Regions from separate parts of the Homo sapiens genome. Here region 1 is linked to region 2. Evidence: fine-mapped expression QTL. Tissue or cell type: cerebellar hemisphere. Region 2 holds a variant in brackets; the other region holds the start of a gene. All regions are shown on one strand. Distances are from middle to middle.

Evidence for each region. PIP is the estimated chance that this variant, and not a neighbour inherited with it, causes the effect.
Region 1: it holds the start of LRRC1, and the variant in region 2 is fine-mapped to the expression of LRRC1 in cerebellar hemisphere (GTEx, PIP 0.94).

The regions. Positions count from the first base shown.
Region 1 is chr6:53,791,725-53,799,826 of GRCh38, forward strand. LRRC1 (leucine rich repeat containing 1) reads left to right here and starts at 3,281. Exons shown (of 14, transcript NM_018214.5): 1 at 3,281-3,691. The coding sequence starts at 3,533. LOC124901333 (a long non-coding RNA gene) reads right to left here and starts at 1,951. Exons shown (of 5, transcript XR_007059619.1): 1 at 1,817-1,951; 2 at 1,559-1,625. RefSeq lists silencers at 1,972-2,101, 3,147-3,386 and an enhancer at 3,353-4,065.
Region 2 is chr6:53,678,592-53,686,701 of GRCh38, forward strand. No RefSeq gene overlaps it. Among named protein-coding and RNA genes, the nearest start is that of KLHL31, 17 kb to the left of the region's middle. The variant T/C (reference allele first, on the strand shown) is at 4,330.

The DNA of each region.
Region 1 (8,102 bases), 110 kb after region 2:
CAAACCTCTGAATCCCCATTTACAAGAATCCCTATCTTACACGCTAACACTTTGGATTTTCACTTAAAAAAATTAATGATATCATGCTCAAAAAATTAATGATAAAGCAACAACAGACCACTAAGTATTTATCATTCTCCTAACTTCAGAGAGTAAGCTTCATGAGGCTAAGACCTATCTTGTTTTTCTTACATTTCTAGTATCTAGCACAATGCCTGGTGCATAGTATGTACCTTTATTAGTTATTTGTTGCTGTGTAATAAATTACTCCAAATCTTAGCAGCTTAAAGCAACAAACATTTACTGTCTCACATAATTTCTGAGGGGCAAGAGTGGGGAGCAGCTTAGCTGAGTGGTCCTGAGTCTGAGGCTATCATGAGGTTTTAGTCAAGCTATCAGCTGGTGCTGCAGTCACTTGAAGGCTTGACAAGGGCTGGAGAACTGGCTTCCAAGATGGCTCACTCACATGACTACTGCCAAGAATCGTCAGTCCCTTGCTAGTTGTTGTCAGCAGTCTGCAATTCTTTGGCATGTGGAGCTCTAGATTTGCTCAACATGGCAGCTGGCTTCCCCAAAGTGAGTGATTCGAGAAAGAAAAAGTTGGTTACATAGACCAACCAGGAGATGGTGGATGTTGTCCCTAACTTCCTGGAGGCTGGCTAATAAAGTGCATAATTAATATTTATTGATTAAAGTAATGTGTGTCTGATACTGTACTAAGCATTTTACATATGTCATTTCATTTAATCCAGATAACAATCCCATGAATCATCCTCATTTGAGATATGATAAAACTGAGGCTTATACAAGTTAAGTAAACTGTCAATTTCTACGAAGCTAGTGGCATAACAAGAGTTCAAACACAGATCTCTTTAGCTCAAAGGCTGTGAAAACATGGTTCACAGTACAAATGAATAAAAGAATTACATTATTCTAAGAATAAAGTGATTTAGGTGGTCTTTTTAAACTTTGTTTAAATTGAGTCAAACTCATTTGTATGTGGCGGAAGAAACTAGATGTTTTATCAGGCGGGAAACCCTAAAATTCTTCAGGTGAGTAAAAAGTTAATTGCTTCCCTATTCTGTAGTTGACAAGGTGTTGTTTCATTTTTTCTCTCTTACTACGCTGTTTCAAATTCTTGGCAGATTATTGGAAACAAGGAAAGTCAAGAATTCTCCCAGTGACTACCCATAGAATTAAATCAACAAAAACTGTTGATCATTGACTGTGCATATGGCACTGTGGCAGCTTCCCAGATCTACAAAGCAAGTGAGACAGTATCTGTTGTTTAAGAGGTCATAATCTCTTTCGGATTAAGGTGATACAAAAATAATAACACAGAGAAGCTGAAGCATCATGGAGAGGCACACAAGGAATGCTTATTGAGGTCTGAATTTTTAAAAGACTGGACACGTCTTTAAAATACATTTGGTGTTCGTTAAAATAATCTAGTGTGATAACCTCTGGAAATCACATTATTTTAAATGGAGGGAACTAGCCTTCTTTAATTTTTTTTTTAAAAAGCAGTTGGAAAACTTGAAGACAGGGACTTACTTACCTTTCCACATGTCTCTGTCAGGAACCAGTTTTCTAGGAAGGGTGGCAGAAATGAGCTTCATATGTTTCTGGAATGCAAGAATGTAGAAAGGGGGGTGGAGGTTCAAAGTCCAGGTAGCCCTCTGTGAGAACGCAGGAATCAAATCAGGACAAACAAAAGAAGGGTGAAGTGGGTAGGGCAACGGAGTTTCGGGATTGACTGGAATGAGAGTTAAGGTGATAATGCTGGGGTGGAAATGAAAGTCAGACCCCTCCTTACGGACTGGGAAGAAAGGAGCCCTCCTAGTAAAGTTGAAAAGACCAAGTGTCCTCTTCTCCATTTCACCGGGGAAACGCTCCTGTGCCTAGTCGTAAGGTACAGGAGAGTCTATGGAGCCCATGGAGAGTCTAATGCAAAAACTAGTTTCCGACCAAACTTTGCCTTGGCCACTGAGCATGCTCAGCTTTGTCTTCTATAGAAAAGTGAACTCCGTGGCTCCAGATTTTAGCTATAGCAGCTGGAGGGCGGGAGTGAGTGTGGGAGAGCCAGCGTGGCAGCGGCCGCAGGTGGAAACCTGGAGTTTGAGTATGCTTGAAAGGGAAAGTGTGGAACGAAGGGGCGGCCGGGTGGGGAATCAGAGAAGCCCCCAAGGAAATGATTCATCATTGTGATTGACCTTGACTTTAGCAACCCTTCATTAAAGGAGAAAATTTGGTTATTCGGAGATGGGGACTGTGTTGCAAACAGTTACAGGCAAAGAGGGGCAGTTCAGGATTCCGGCCGTGGTCCGCAGGAATGAGTCGGGGCGAGGGAATGGTTGTTATAACCCAATAGTGAGCCTCCCCGGTCATCCGGGCTGGACGGGACTGGGGTTGTAGCAGAAAAGCAGGAGCTGTATGGAGGATGCTCACCTGGCAGCCTCGATCTGCCCCTCTTCCCTCGCTCCTCCCTCCGCACCAGCCACAGCTAGTTGTCAGGGGCCAACATCTGGGCCGGGCTGGAACTGGCTCAGAAACTCGCGTTTGCCTGCTTATTTCTGCAGCTGGGCTCCTTGCCAGGTGCAACCACATCTATGAGAATCTCGCAGACTCTCAGACTCCTATGCCTTTGCTGGTACAGGGAGGAGGATTTACTATCACTCACTGCATAAACCATGATCACCAGAGATGTGCTCCCAAGTTACAAAGCCTGCAGGCGGTGCCCGAGGACCAGAGGGCCGGGCGCGGCCAGCTCACACTTCTGGGGCAGCCGTGAGCAGCGGGCACACGGGCAGCCACGAAAGCAGCAGCGAGGGTGGTGCAAACACCTCAAAACTACACCGAATCCAGTAGCGCCTGGCGCCCCCGGCGCGCAAGGTACGCTTTGGGGCGGTCCTGTGTGACCCCGGAAGAGAAAGTTGTTTTGGGGAAGGGGAGCAAGGAGAGGAGTGCGAGTTAAATAAAACTAAATATCAAAGTTGTTCTGCTCTGCTCAGGCCGCCTCTACTCCGCCTCATCTTTGTCCCAAGTCCTTTCACAGTCTGCCTTCCTCAAACGGCCCGATGCGCCCCCGTCTTTGCCGGAGTAAGCAGACCGCCAGCAGCCGGCCCGCAGGTCAGTCGACCCTCTCTGGATGCAGGTCGCCGGGAAAACCCGGAGCGGAGCATCCCTCGGGCCGGGAAACGCCCTCGGCGCGCACCCACTGGCGCGCATGCTCAGTCCGCGCGGCGGCTGCGAGTAGGAAGCTCCGCGCGGCGGCGGGGGCGGCGACGGCGACTGGCGGGTGGGAGTGGAGGCACCGGCTGGCGGGCGGGGGTACAGGGACGGGGCAGGGGCTCCCGCTCCAGGTTCCTTGAAGCACTTCCGACCGCGAAGCCCGGCGCGAGAAGCGAGCTAACCCAAGAGCCAACAACGAGCGCGGAGAGGGCAGCGGACTGAGCGGAGCCGCCGGCCAGAGCGGGCTCGGAGCCCGGGTCTCCGCCGCTCGGGACCCGGCTAGGCGGCGGCGGGGGCGGCGATGTTCCACTGCATCCCCCTGTGGCGGTGCAACCGTCATGTGGAGAGCATCGACAAGCGCCACTGCTCGCTGGTCTACGTCCCCGAGGAGATCTACCGCTATGCCCGGAGCCTGGAGGAGCTGCTGCTGGACGCCAACCAGCTCCGCGAGCTGCCCGAGGTAAGGGTCCGGCCTCACCTGAGCGCTCTGCCCGCTCGTCTGCTGTCCCTTCCGCTCCCATCCTCTCTCGTCCCCTCTTCCATCTCCGGGTCCGGCGTGAAGGAACCTTCCCTCTTTTATGCATTCACCTGCTTCTTTCTCCCCCTGTCTCTTTACTTCCATCCTTTCCCAGTAAAAGTTCCTTTTCATTTTATTCAAAGTGACCGGATATTTTGCGCGTAGTCACTGGGGCTCGTGCTATTGGAGAAGCGTTCTGGACTGTTAAGTAACTTAGATCCATGCTAGGTACTGACACCTGGCACTTGTGCCCGGTCAGGTGAGAAGCCGGGTGATTCGGGCTGTTTCCATCTGGAAGCTACAGAGCACTGCATCCTCCCCCCCTCCACTCCCCGGGGTCGTTCCCCCACCAAGGGCCGGGCGCGCCTCTCCTTTAGTCAAGGCATGTCCCGGAGGACCTTGTGACCTGGGCAGCGCTCAAGCGGGCCGCACTATCTCGGCATCTTGGGAGGAATGAGGAATGTGCTCCGTGCTTTATCGCGGGTGGGCTTGGCCGGCTGGCCTGCGGTGGCTGCGGGGGTGGACGCGAGATGGGCGCAGGGGAGAGCTGGGCCTGGAGCGCTAGGGGCAGGTGCCCAGATGCCGGCCGCCCGGGCCTTGCCTACGTGGACCTGTTGCGTGGTGGGAGCTGCGGTGAACGTCAGCGGAGGCTCTGCCCGCGGGCCAGCCTTGCAGCCGCCTTTCCCGGAGCGGGCACAGTCGTCCTGCTGACTTTCTCTCCTTGCAGTGATGCGTTATCTCTTCAGAGTTGTTTATGTAAATTGATCACTCCATTGCCGCCGAACTTGTCAAGCGACATGTGCTGATGGTGCTTTGACCGAGAGTAGGGGTACAGCGAACTTCTTTCAAGCTTGCCTCGGGAACTTAGCTAGAGTAACCCCTCGGGGAAGGTGTCTCAAACCCAGGTGTGTGCAGGAAGTCGGTGTGCAATAATCCAAAGGTGTGCAGGAAGTAGGGAGACTGCTGGCAGTCGGGGATTGGACCTGTTTTAGGCCTGAGCTTTGGAACGCAAACTTCTTGTTGCCCTTTAGTTAACACAAGCCAAATCATTGTCACAGAAACACTAGTCAAGTGTTCTGACTTGTTAGAATGACCTGATACGTTCTCCAGCGCTGATGGAGCATTTAAACAATAAGAACTGTGTGTTTTTCTCAATATTTTAAGTGGTGGTGTTCTTCTTGGATTAACTTTCCTGGGTTCATGTGGAATTGATTGGATGTTTGCTCTGTGTAATCATGGAGATTATCCTCACTAGGACCTTTGCAAAGCCCCCCAGGCTTTATTTAGCTTAGAAGCAGCAAAGCCATCAAGTTCCCTCAGGCGTTTATTATTTCGCAGGCATTTTCAAACACATGATTTTTTTCTGGCCTTTTACGTCCTTGAAGATTTCTTACCAGTCGTCAGCTCCCTCACTGCTTTAAGTTGTGTAATTTTAGGCAGTGATATCACCAGGAATATAGAATATGTAATTTAATAGTTTTCAGGGGCTTCAGGATGACATTATTGAAGATGGAGTGAAAAGTTATTCACTAGAAATGATTCATTGCTCTTTGTGGTATTTGTTTTTTTGTTTTCTTTTGTAGAACTGGAAGATTTCCTTTGACTGGATTGGCTTTTCACTCCCTTCTGCAGGGTTTGTGGGTTTTCCTGTAATGTTGGGGAATTCAGCTTGGCATGGGAAATTACATAATTTCCCATGCCAAGCCGAAATGTCAGGTCTTTCTGTGATCCTAAATGGAAACTTGTCAGAATCTCAAAATATAGTCTGATGGCACTCTGTAAATATGGTAAATAAACAAGCTTTTCAAAGGTTACAGGTGATCTTGCTAATGGATTATTATTGCTCTAACAGCTGTTAAATTAGTATTAAAGTTTTTAGGTTGTGTAAAATCTACTTCTCCCTGACTTATTGTGTGTCTTGGTGCCTGGGTGTGTACATGCCAGACATGAGAACCACCTTGCAAACATAGATATCTGTTCCATCCCTTCCATTCTTTCCTTGGGCTATCTGTTGTCTCACCTCTGAGATCTGTATAACTTATTACCACTGGTCTCTGCTGCTCCTGCTCCAAACCCCTGTCTCCTTACCTGCCACACACAAGCGCATCTGTTTTGTTCACAAGCCTCAAAGGTCCTTATTTTGGTGGCCATACCAGCTGTATGTTCTCCTCTCTATAATTTGTTTGGAAGCACAGCTTAAGGGGAAGCCGGTACCCCTTACCAGGGCAGCAAAGATGCACTCTCCAGGTTTCAGTGTAATAACAGCCACCTTCTTTCCACTGAAAGGCCTGCAACTTCTGGTTTGCGCCAATATCTTCCTTTTACAAATTCAGATTCAGAATTGAGGTGACTTTCTCAGGGCTGTCCAGTGAGTTAGATGCAGTTGCTGGTGGGTCTTGTTCATTCAGATGTCAGCCAAATACAATTGCTTTGGACACCTAGCAGGAATCTTCTATCCTGCTTCTCACACCCATCAAATCTTTATTTAGTCTCTCCTGTTTTACTCATGTCATTATAACTTAGCCTTAGCCAAGCATTTATTGAGACTCCATTATTTACAAGTTATTGGGAATATAGAGATTAAAGGAGGCATGATTCACATCTTTGGGAGGAAGCAGATGATTTTAATCCAGATGTAGTTAGTGTGGGATGGAAAGGACACCACGGTTAAACTACTCCTAAGCTATGGACTTGATGGTTACTTCCCTAATCTTTTAACCTTTTGCATCAGATCCCTCATCTTCAGTTTGGTTGCAGTTGGGTGATAGCCTCACCATCCTTTTTGCATCCACCTACTTCTCCCCCATACCCGCAGTTTGATCCTTTTTGGCTCTGTGCTAACAAAGGCAGTCTCACTGTAACCTTCTTGAGATGTCTGTGTGTTTTTGCTTACCTTTGTTTATTTTTTATTTATTTATTTTTTGAGACGGAGTCTCACTCTTGTTGCCTAGGCTGGAGTGCAGTGGCACGATCTCCACTCACTGCAAGCTCCTCCTTCTGGGTTCACACCATTCTCCTGCCTCAGCCTCTCGAGTAGCTGGGACTACAGGTGCCCACCACCACACCCAGCTAATTTTTTAGTATTTTTAGTAGAGACAGGGTTTCACCATGTTAGCCAGGATGGTCTCGATCTCCTGACCTCATGACCCACCCGCCTTAGCCTCCCAAAGTGCTGGGATTACAGGCGTGAGCCACCATGCCCGGCCTTACCTTTGTTCAGCACAGAATCTCATCCTTGTGACACCCAATAGGTCTTGCTCAATAAACAGTTATTTATCTGTTGAATGAATGTTGCCGAATCTTATAAAAATCTTCCTCCCTCTGCTTCTTTCTTTTCCCTTAAGCATATCACTGCTCCAGCATCTATCCTTTTCTAATATAGTCAGAATATTCAAGTTGGAAGCAACTTCAGAAGAAAAGGTCATTCATAGGGTGACACTGTTTTGTCCTACTTGCCCTGCAGGAACCTTGGCTTCCCCTCTGTACTTCCTCAGCCTTTCACATGCCATTGGTTTTCTCCTCAGTGTGCACCAGTTCTCAGATACCTTCAAATGCGTGTGTTTTCCTGTAATCTCCAGCACCAATATAGCGCTTCATGTAGTAGTAGGCAGCACATATTTTAAATGAATATACTAAAGGCTTCATAGCTTTAAAAATTTGAATTTCACCTTGCCACCTCCTCTTAAGAGTTCAGTTGATTTTTGTTGATTGCCAGATGGCATTATCTCAAATGCCTGCCCCCTACATCATTCTTTCTCATATTCTGCTTTATTTTTTCCTGTCCTTTAGAGCATATATCATTACCTAACTCCAGACCATATATTTGCTTTCTTGTTCTTTGTCTCTCTCCCTAACTAAAACATAACCTCCATGAGTGCAGAGGTCTTCACGGCTGGACCTAGGACAGTATTTAGTACATAGTGGGCACAAAGATGTGTCAGTGAGTCCTAACATGGGTAGATGGGCCCTGTTTCTTAGCCGTCATAATTCCCCTTCCTATGGTCAGACTTTTGTACACCAATCTGGTGAAGCTATTGTTGACACAAAGTCTTCTTTCAGAATCCGGTGTCCTTGTCTTGCCAGTTTTTGTTTTCCATCTCTTCTGTGCTGGACACCTTTGATTGCCTTATCTTTGAAAGAATCTTCATGCATTGTAAACATATTTTCTATGAACATGACTTAAAGTTTAATATATCCAGCTGTGATCTGTTAAGGGAATATCCATCTCCACTTGTGGTAAGTCCCTTTTGCCTTAAACCAACCATGTTTTAATTTAGGTTTCATATTGCAAACTGACTGCTTTTCCCAGAAGTTCTGTTTCTAGGGGGCAGGGCAGCTATTCTTTCCATCTCAA
Region 2 (8,110 bases):
ATCCCAGCACTTTGGGAGGCCAAGGTGGGCGGATCACAAGGTCAGGAGTTTGAGACCAGCCTGACAAATATGGTGAAACCCCCGTCTCTACTAAAAATACAAAAATTAGCTGGGCATGGTGGCATGTGCCTGTAATCCCAGCTACTTAGGAGGCTGAAGTGGGAGAATCACTTGAACCCAGGAGGCAGAGGTTGCAGTGAGCCAAGATCACGCCACTGCACTCCAGCCTGGGCGACAGAGCGAGATTCCATTTCAAATAAATAAACAAATAAATAAATAAACAAACAAACATTAACCAGCTATTATGGCTCAGCTGCTAGGAACACACTATATAAATTACCATCTTTTCCCCTCAAATTGCTCACAAGTCAGTCGTGGAGACAAATGAATGATGACTTCTGAATCAGAAAAAGGTAAGTAGTATTTCAGTATAATGCAAACACAGAGAATTGGCCTGGGGAAACTGGGGCAGTTTCAGTACAGGGGACAGTGCTTCTGGCTGGGTCCAGAAGGAGTTGGAGGAATTTGCCAGGTGAATGATGGGGACTCTGACAGAGTATATTTCATCCTGGGAAGTGAATCTGCAATGCATTATTGGGAGTCTTCAAGTCATCAATGAGAATTTTAAGTTTGACTTTTACTTTCAGGATAATCTTTTTAAAGTTACTTTTAAGTTTATTCATTCAACTTATCACTGGACACTGCTGTACAATTTCAGGGTTCACATTTTCAAATGCATTTATTATCACAGGATACCAAGAAACACTTTAACTATCTTTTGCCACGCAGGAATTCAGGCCCAGAATGTGGAGAGAGATTCTAATTTCTAGATTATAATACAAGTTGGAAATTCAGCGTTTCATGTGAAATGTTCTAATTTTTAAATGTTGGCAACTAATTTTTTTTCAACATTGTCCATGGTAACAAAACAAAAACACAGGTCACATGTTTGCAGCTCCTGTTCTTTGGGTTTCAGGGTCATTAACAAGGTATTGTTTTCCACCCAGTGGCCATGTAGTTTTACTGCAGTTTGAAGGGCTTCAAGGAAATTTGCTTCCTGCAGTGCTGACCTTGAAACCCCCAACATGTAAAGCCCACCAAAAAGGACAAGGGCCTAACGAGGAATTCAGCAGGAGAGAAGAGGTGGTCTGGCCACTGGGTTGAGCTTGCACCACGGGGAAGCCGGTTCTGGAGCAGCCCAGGAATGAGGGGTAAAGCCCATCAGAACACAGTCGTGGCGCTCTGCTTCGGGATACGTGGCTGAGCTTGTGGAAGGGGAACCATCTCATAGCTCAAGCAAGGGTGTCAGTGAGCAGTGGTTGAACGCAGGATGTGTTCGACTGCAGTATCATATGGCTGCCACCACAGCAGTGATTGTCATGGAGACTGGAATTTTTGGTTTTCTCTACTGGGTTGTGAAAGTGATGCTTTTTTGAGTGAGAAAATCCTTTTGATTTGGCAAATTTGGAGGTCTGGATGAGGAGAGGGCTAAAGAGGGAGAAAATGGATTGTGGCAGAGGTTGCTAGTTGCTTCTCTTTAACATCTGTTTTCCTTCTTTTCCTTAGTATTAGCATTCTCCAGTTTTCAGCCGGGCACACAGCCACCTCCAGGTGACTGTATCACTAAATGCCTTTTAAAGGGCAGAAGAAAACTAATTTTTAAAAAGTTCAACAGCATCAATAATTTCACCTATTTATATTTTAAATCAGCAATCAGTGTGAAAACTCTAAAAAGGTCTAAAGGCATTACCTTGGTAGTTCCCAAAACTAGAGCAGCAGAGCAAGAGCCAAAACCTCCTCCGGTACGAAATTTGCAAAAATAATAGTTGACAGGTAAAATGTCACCCTTTTTAAAATTCTCTGAACAAAGAAGGCTATCATTTGTCTTACATCTAATCAAAAACATTTTGTAAAATTATGATACAGAGTCTCCTCTGTAGGGAGGGTACAGGTAGGCTTGTAGAATTAGAGAGACATGGATTCCAATGAGCAAATGAGATTACTTGACAAGAGAACAGACAGAATTAATAAGACTGGCTCTTGCCGCATCCTTGGTGGTTTAGGGACATGGTTCTGATAGAGTTCAAAGCTCTTGCATGAGGCAAATTGGTAAATATTCGGCCTGACACTTCTTGCACAATCATCTTAAATTATAAAGCAGTAAAAAAAAGCTAAGACTATTCCATTCTTGTGACTTTTTGATGTTTTCCAAATTGAGTTTTAACAGAAATAATAGCAAATGTGAACATTCAAAGTCAATCTCTATACCAATAGCACCCCTCAGCCCAGCTTCCTTCTCTGTCTATTTAGACTTGTTCTGATAGATATTTCAAGGGTGATCTCAATTGTACTCATGGAAAATAGCATTTCTGGGAAAGATTTCTACAAGGCTGAATTCTTCCTGTTGACTAATTCTCCTACATATAGTATTTCCATGTATAGCAGCAACTTCATCCACAGTTGCTCAGATAATTTTAAACGCCACTTAAAGGTTTAACAGGAACACTTTTGGTCCCATCTGTGGGGGTGGGAGGGCTAGGCTCTAAGAACAGAATTAAACTCATATTTTGAAGTGTAGTATGCAAATCAGGTTGCCAAAACAACTGCTTCTGTGACTCTTAGAAGAGATTTAAGATGGAGCCAAGAGTTGAGACAAAGGCTAAAGAGATCAGAGAATGAGAATCGAGGATTCCTAAGGTGAAAGTTTTTGAAGGATTGTGGCATTTTCCCATTCTTTTGGTGAGGGAAGAAGTGTGCTTCCCCTCTTCTTAATCCAAGTGAGAAAGACTTTGGGGGAGTCACATAAGGAACTTGATCTATGTCCTCTGGAATTCAGTGGACTAGTGTCTGAACTCTGAGGATGGCTGTTCAGGTTGTACAATGCACAACTCTAGAAGGTCCCATTCACATAGACAACAATGTTTAGAAATCTGCAAACTATATTTGGAGACTCTGGGTGTCTGACTCTCCTAGAGGTAAGCTATGGTGGTTGGAGCTGCAGTTAGTTAATTGCAAAGAGGAAAACAAGGGCACTAGGAGCAAGTTGGAGTTTCACCAACAATGAGACAAGGATGTGAGAGTTTTTCAGCTTGGCCACGTGGGTCCATGTAAGGAAACCAGCCTGAAGCCTTCTTGAGAAGGTCCTTAGGGGAAAAAAACCTAGAGAGGACCCCTCCAACTGAAAGCCAGAGGGCTGAGTGTTGGCAGTGAAAGTGGCCAGGCATTGGAGTGGCTGTCCTCATCATGGACAGTGCAGTGGGGATTTCCCATGGGGCAAAGAACCCCATGAGAGTCCACCCTGAGCACTCAACCTCAATGAGCAGCAACGCCAGATCACAGAGGTTCCGTCCATGTGCCCTTTGCATAACCCCAGCCCTGGGCCCAGTCCTGGAGGGAATAGAAAGACAGCTTGTGAGGGGAAGCATCGGAAGAGGAAAAGATGCCAACCATGCCCTAAGCCCCCAGCCCCAGACTCCCAAGACCCTCACTCTAGGCTTGTAGGCCAAAGTCAGGTGTCAGCCCAGGGAGGGTAAAAAATTTGGAATTTGGTTATTACACTAAATTGAACATTTTAATTACTAAAATAAGACTTCTGTTAAGACCAAAGGTGAGCTCAGGATATTTAAAACCTTTAAGTGACTGGGAGATCTGCTTGAGACTTCATATAAGAACAGGGAAAGAATCAGCCCATTCAGTAGGTATAAAGGAGGAGGGATTGGGGAGGAGTCGATATTGCTCTCTTTGTAGCCTGTTGAGCTCCAAACCTTCAGTAAGCAGGCCTGAAGCATTTTATTTTAACGTGAGATATATAAATGTACACTTATCCCCAATCTTTTGATGTAGAGCCAAGACCTTTTGTGCAAGCACAGGCAACTGATCTTTCTTAAACTCACCCACAAAACAGCAACTATGAGTTCCAATTTTGGCTTCCTCACATTGGATTGAAAATGTTAAGAAATTTGCAAAACAACCCAAATATAGTTTAAAATGTATACGATTCATTTTCTCTTGTCTTCTACAGTTGTCTCACCCACACCCGTTTTTTGAAATGAAAATGGGTGTGGGTGAGACAACTGTAAAAGGCCTTTTGAAAGCATTTAGTTTAGTGGTTCATAGAAACAACCACTCTTTTTATACTCATATGTCATTGGTTTACATAATATTTAATTAAATTATGTAACTCAGCAACAAGTACTATTGGCATAAACAGCAGAGCACATGCCCAGCTGACCCTTGGTAAAGGCACGCTTGAATTTGTGGGAGCAGAAGCACATGGCTGTACTGGAGAGTAGCCCGCTCATGGTGAGCTTTCCATGTGTCCTGATCATC[T/C]GTCTCCAGATCTTACTGAGAGACAGAGCATGCAGGATTATCTAGGGAGCTGGTAAATGGACAACAATCTACTGAGGCGCCATTATTTTAGGTCCAATATTTGAGATGTAAACACCATCATAAAAGCTACCATTGACTGAGTATCTACCATGTGCCAGGCAGGGCACTGGGCACTTTACACACACTTTAAATGAATAAAACCTCATTTAGCTTTCACAGATAATACTTTCCTTCATTTTACAGTTGAGGAAACTGAAATGTACAGAAATTAAATAACTTACTCTAGGTCACGTAGGCAATAAATGAATAATCAGTGCTTCTCAAACTCTAAAGTGCAAACAAATCACCAGGGGGGTATTATTTAAATGAAAACTTTGAAATAGTAGGTCTGGGGTGGGGCCTGAGATTTTGCACTTCTAAGAAGCGCCCAGATACTGTTGCTGCTGCTGGTCTGCAGACCAAATCTTGAAAATCCTGATATCCTAACTTAACTGCTCTGAGATGGAGCCCAGGCATCCCTGTTTTCTAAAAGCTCTCCAGGAATCTTTCGTAAACAGAGTGGAGATAATTGTTCCTCCAGGAAAGGCAGAAAAGTTGTGGAAGTGGATTGACTTAGTGATACTTGGTTTCAAATACCTTAATTTTTAAAAAAATGTGTTTTAAAAATACAGTAGTGCCCAGGCGCGGTGGCTCACGCCTATAATCCCAGCACTTTGGGAAGCTGAGGCAGGCAGATCACCATAGATCGGGAGATAGAGACCATCCTGGCCAACATGGCGAAACCCCATCTCTACTAAAAATACAAAAATTAGCCAGGTGTGGTGGCACGCGCCTGTAATTCTAGCTACTCAGGAGGCTGAGGGAGGAGAATTGCTTAAACCCAGGAGGCAGACGTTGCAGTGAGCTGAGATCACACCATTGCACTCCAGCCTGGGTGACAAGAACGAAACTCCGTATCAAACAAAACAAAACAAACAAACAAAAAATAGTAATGAATTTGAACCAATATACAAGTTTATAAAATAAAAGGTAAAAATCTTCCTCCTTTAACAAGAGTTTTTGAAAATAAAATATAATCAAGCTATTTACTGCACACACTTATGCAACAATTTTCTAACTCCATGATGTATCATACATTTCTTTTGTAGTAAGTATACACTACTATAATCTGCTTCATCTTACTTCATCCTTATTGATAATGCATTGTATTCCATAGCACAATGAAACCATAATTTATCTATTCCTTCATAGGTGGGCATTAAGCTGACTCTAATTTTTTTCAGTTTTACAGATAATGCTTTGTGCATATATCCATGGGCATGTGTATAAGTCATTCTGTAGAATCAACTTCTAGATGTGAAATTGCTGGTTTATTTAAAAAGCTATTCTCAAATACAAGGTTCACTGAATTACACTTGTGCCATCATATATAAAAATGCCTCCTTTCCTCCACCACCTTGAAATACTGGGTATTATCAATCTTTTGTGTATTAAGCAATACAATATATGAAAGGTGGTTCTCAATGATTCTTAATTTGTGTGTCATGAATGCATGAGGATGAAAATCTTTTAATATGTGCATTAGACTTAATATTTCTTCTTTTATGGCTTGTATGTCTATATCCTTTTGCCCTGTTAGTTATTTGGTTGCTTATCTATTTTATATTATTTGTCTCTTATATATGCTGCAAATGTCATCCTCCCAGCCTAATACTCGCTTTTTTTTTTTCTTTTGAGACAGGGTCTTGCTCTGTTGCCCAGGCTGGAGTGCAGTGGTACAATCACAGCACACTGCAGCCTTGACCTCCCAGGCTCAAGCGACCCTTCCACCTCAGCCTCTCAAGTAGCAGCTGGGATGGTGCATACCACCATGCCCAGCTAATTTTTAATCTTTTGTAAACACAGGGTCTCACCATGTTGCCTAGGCTAGCCTCAAACTCCTGGACTCAAGCCATCCTCCCACCTTGGCCCTCCAAAGTGCTGGGATTACAGGTGTGAGCCACTGCTCTGGGCCTACGGTTCACTTTTTAAATTTATTTTACAATATTTTACAGAATTGTTTCATTTCTTTATGTCAAGTCTGTCAATTTTCTTCCATGATTTATTTCTGTTTTACTTCTTATTTAGGAAAGACTTCCTCATCCTCAAATTATAAAATACATATCCCTGTTTTTTCCATCTGTCACTCATTAATTCATGTGATCATTAATCCTTATGCAAAATATATTCTGTATATAAAGTAGAATTATGACTTGAAGTTAGAGGGGTTTTTTTGTGTCTTTTACTCCCAAATACCATCCTCAGCACCATTCGTTGAACAGACCATCATTAATCCTGGATTTGAAATGCCCTCTTTATTAAACGATAGAAGTCTCATCATTAAATTTATTAAACGATAGAAATGTCATATGCACAAGTCTCATCTTCTCCTTTCATCCCTTTTCTTCCATGCCTGCCTCAAGTTGTTTTAATTTCTGTAGTTTTATAGAACTTCTGGAAAGACCAGTCTGTTATTATTTTTTAGTTTTTCTTCCTTTTTTAAAACCAAATTTTTTTTCTACTTTTCTTTAGATGAATTTCAAATGCCCATATCCGGTTCTAAAGCAAAGTTGCATTGGAATTTTTACTGAAATTTTATTCTAATGATCCACTAGTATGGGGAAAATTGACATCTTTATAGTATTGAATGTTCCATGCAGAAACAAGGTATGTCACTTCATTTATTCAGATAAAATATTTTATATAGTCTTCACAAATGTAGATTTGCACATAACAAGAGTTAGGTTTATTCCTGGATTAATATATATAAGGGAATAAATAATCTTTAAATACATTTATCTTTTTTTTTTTTTTTTTTTTTTGAGACAGAGTCTTGCTCTGTTGCCCAGGAGTCCAGTGGCGCGATCTCAGCTCACTGCAAGTTCCACCTCCCAGGTTCAAGCAATTCTCCTGCCTTAGCCTCCTGAGCAGCTGGGATTACAGGCACATGCCACCATGTATGGCTAATTTTTCTATCTTTAGTAGAGACGGGGTTTTGCCATGTTGGCCAGACTAGTCTCAAACTGTCAACCTCAGGTGATCCACCAGCTTCGGCCTGCCAAAGTGCTGGGATTACAGGCATGAGCCACTGCACCCGGCCTATATTTATCTTCATATATATATTTACATATATACACAAATACATATACACATATTTATATATATACATATATTTACATATGTACTATATATGTAAATATATATATCCTTTTCCAAATCATCATTCTAACTGATTATTGCTGATATATGATAGCTACTACTTTAAAAGTATTTTTCTTCCAATTAAGCGGCTTACCAGAGTCTCATAAGATCTAATCATTTTATGAATTATCTTTGGAGCTATAGAGCTTTTATTTGGCAAAATTCATTTATTAAAAATTCTACTTTCAACTATGAAGCTAATAAGCACTCAATAAAGAAAATTAGAAATCTAGAAAAAAATTACCCCAACAACTGATAACGACTAGTATCATTTTGCTTGCATCAGTTTTCATTCTTTTTATATTGCATAATTTCTTTTACATAATTGTAATCACACAGTATAACTAACTGGGTGTACTTTCTAAAAGAATAAATGCCTTCAATATGCAAAGCTCTTTTGCTGGGAGTTTGTTTTATAAGGAGCTGTGTGCTTCTCACTAATGTGCAGAAATGCTAATGTAAGTTCTGCTACTGAGAGTTACTGAGTTCAGTTTGGTCCCTTCTTTTGCTGCAGGCCTGGCTTGGTGACATTTCTACCACC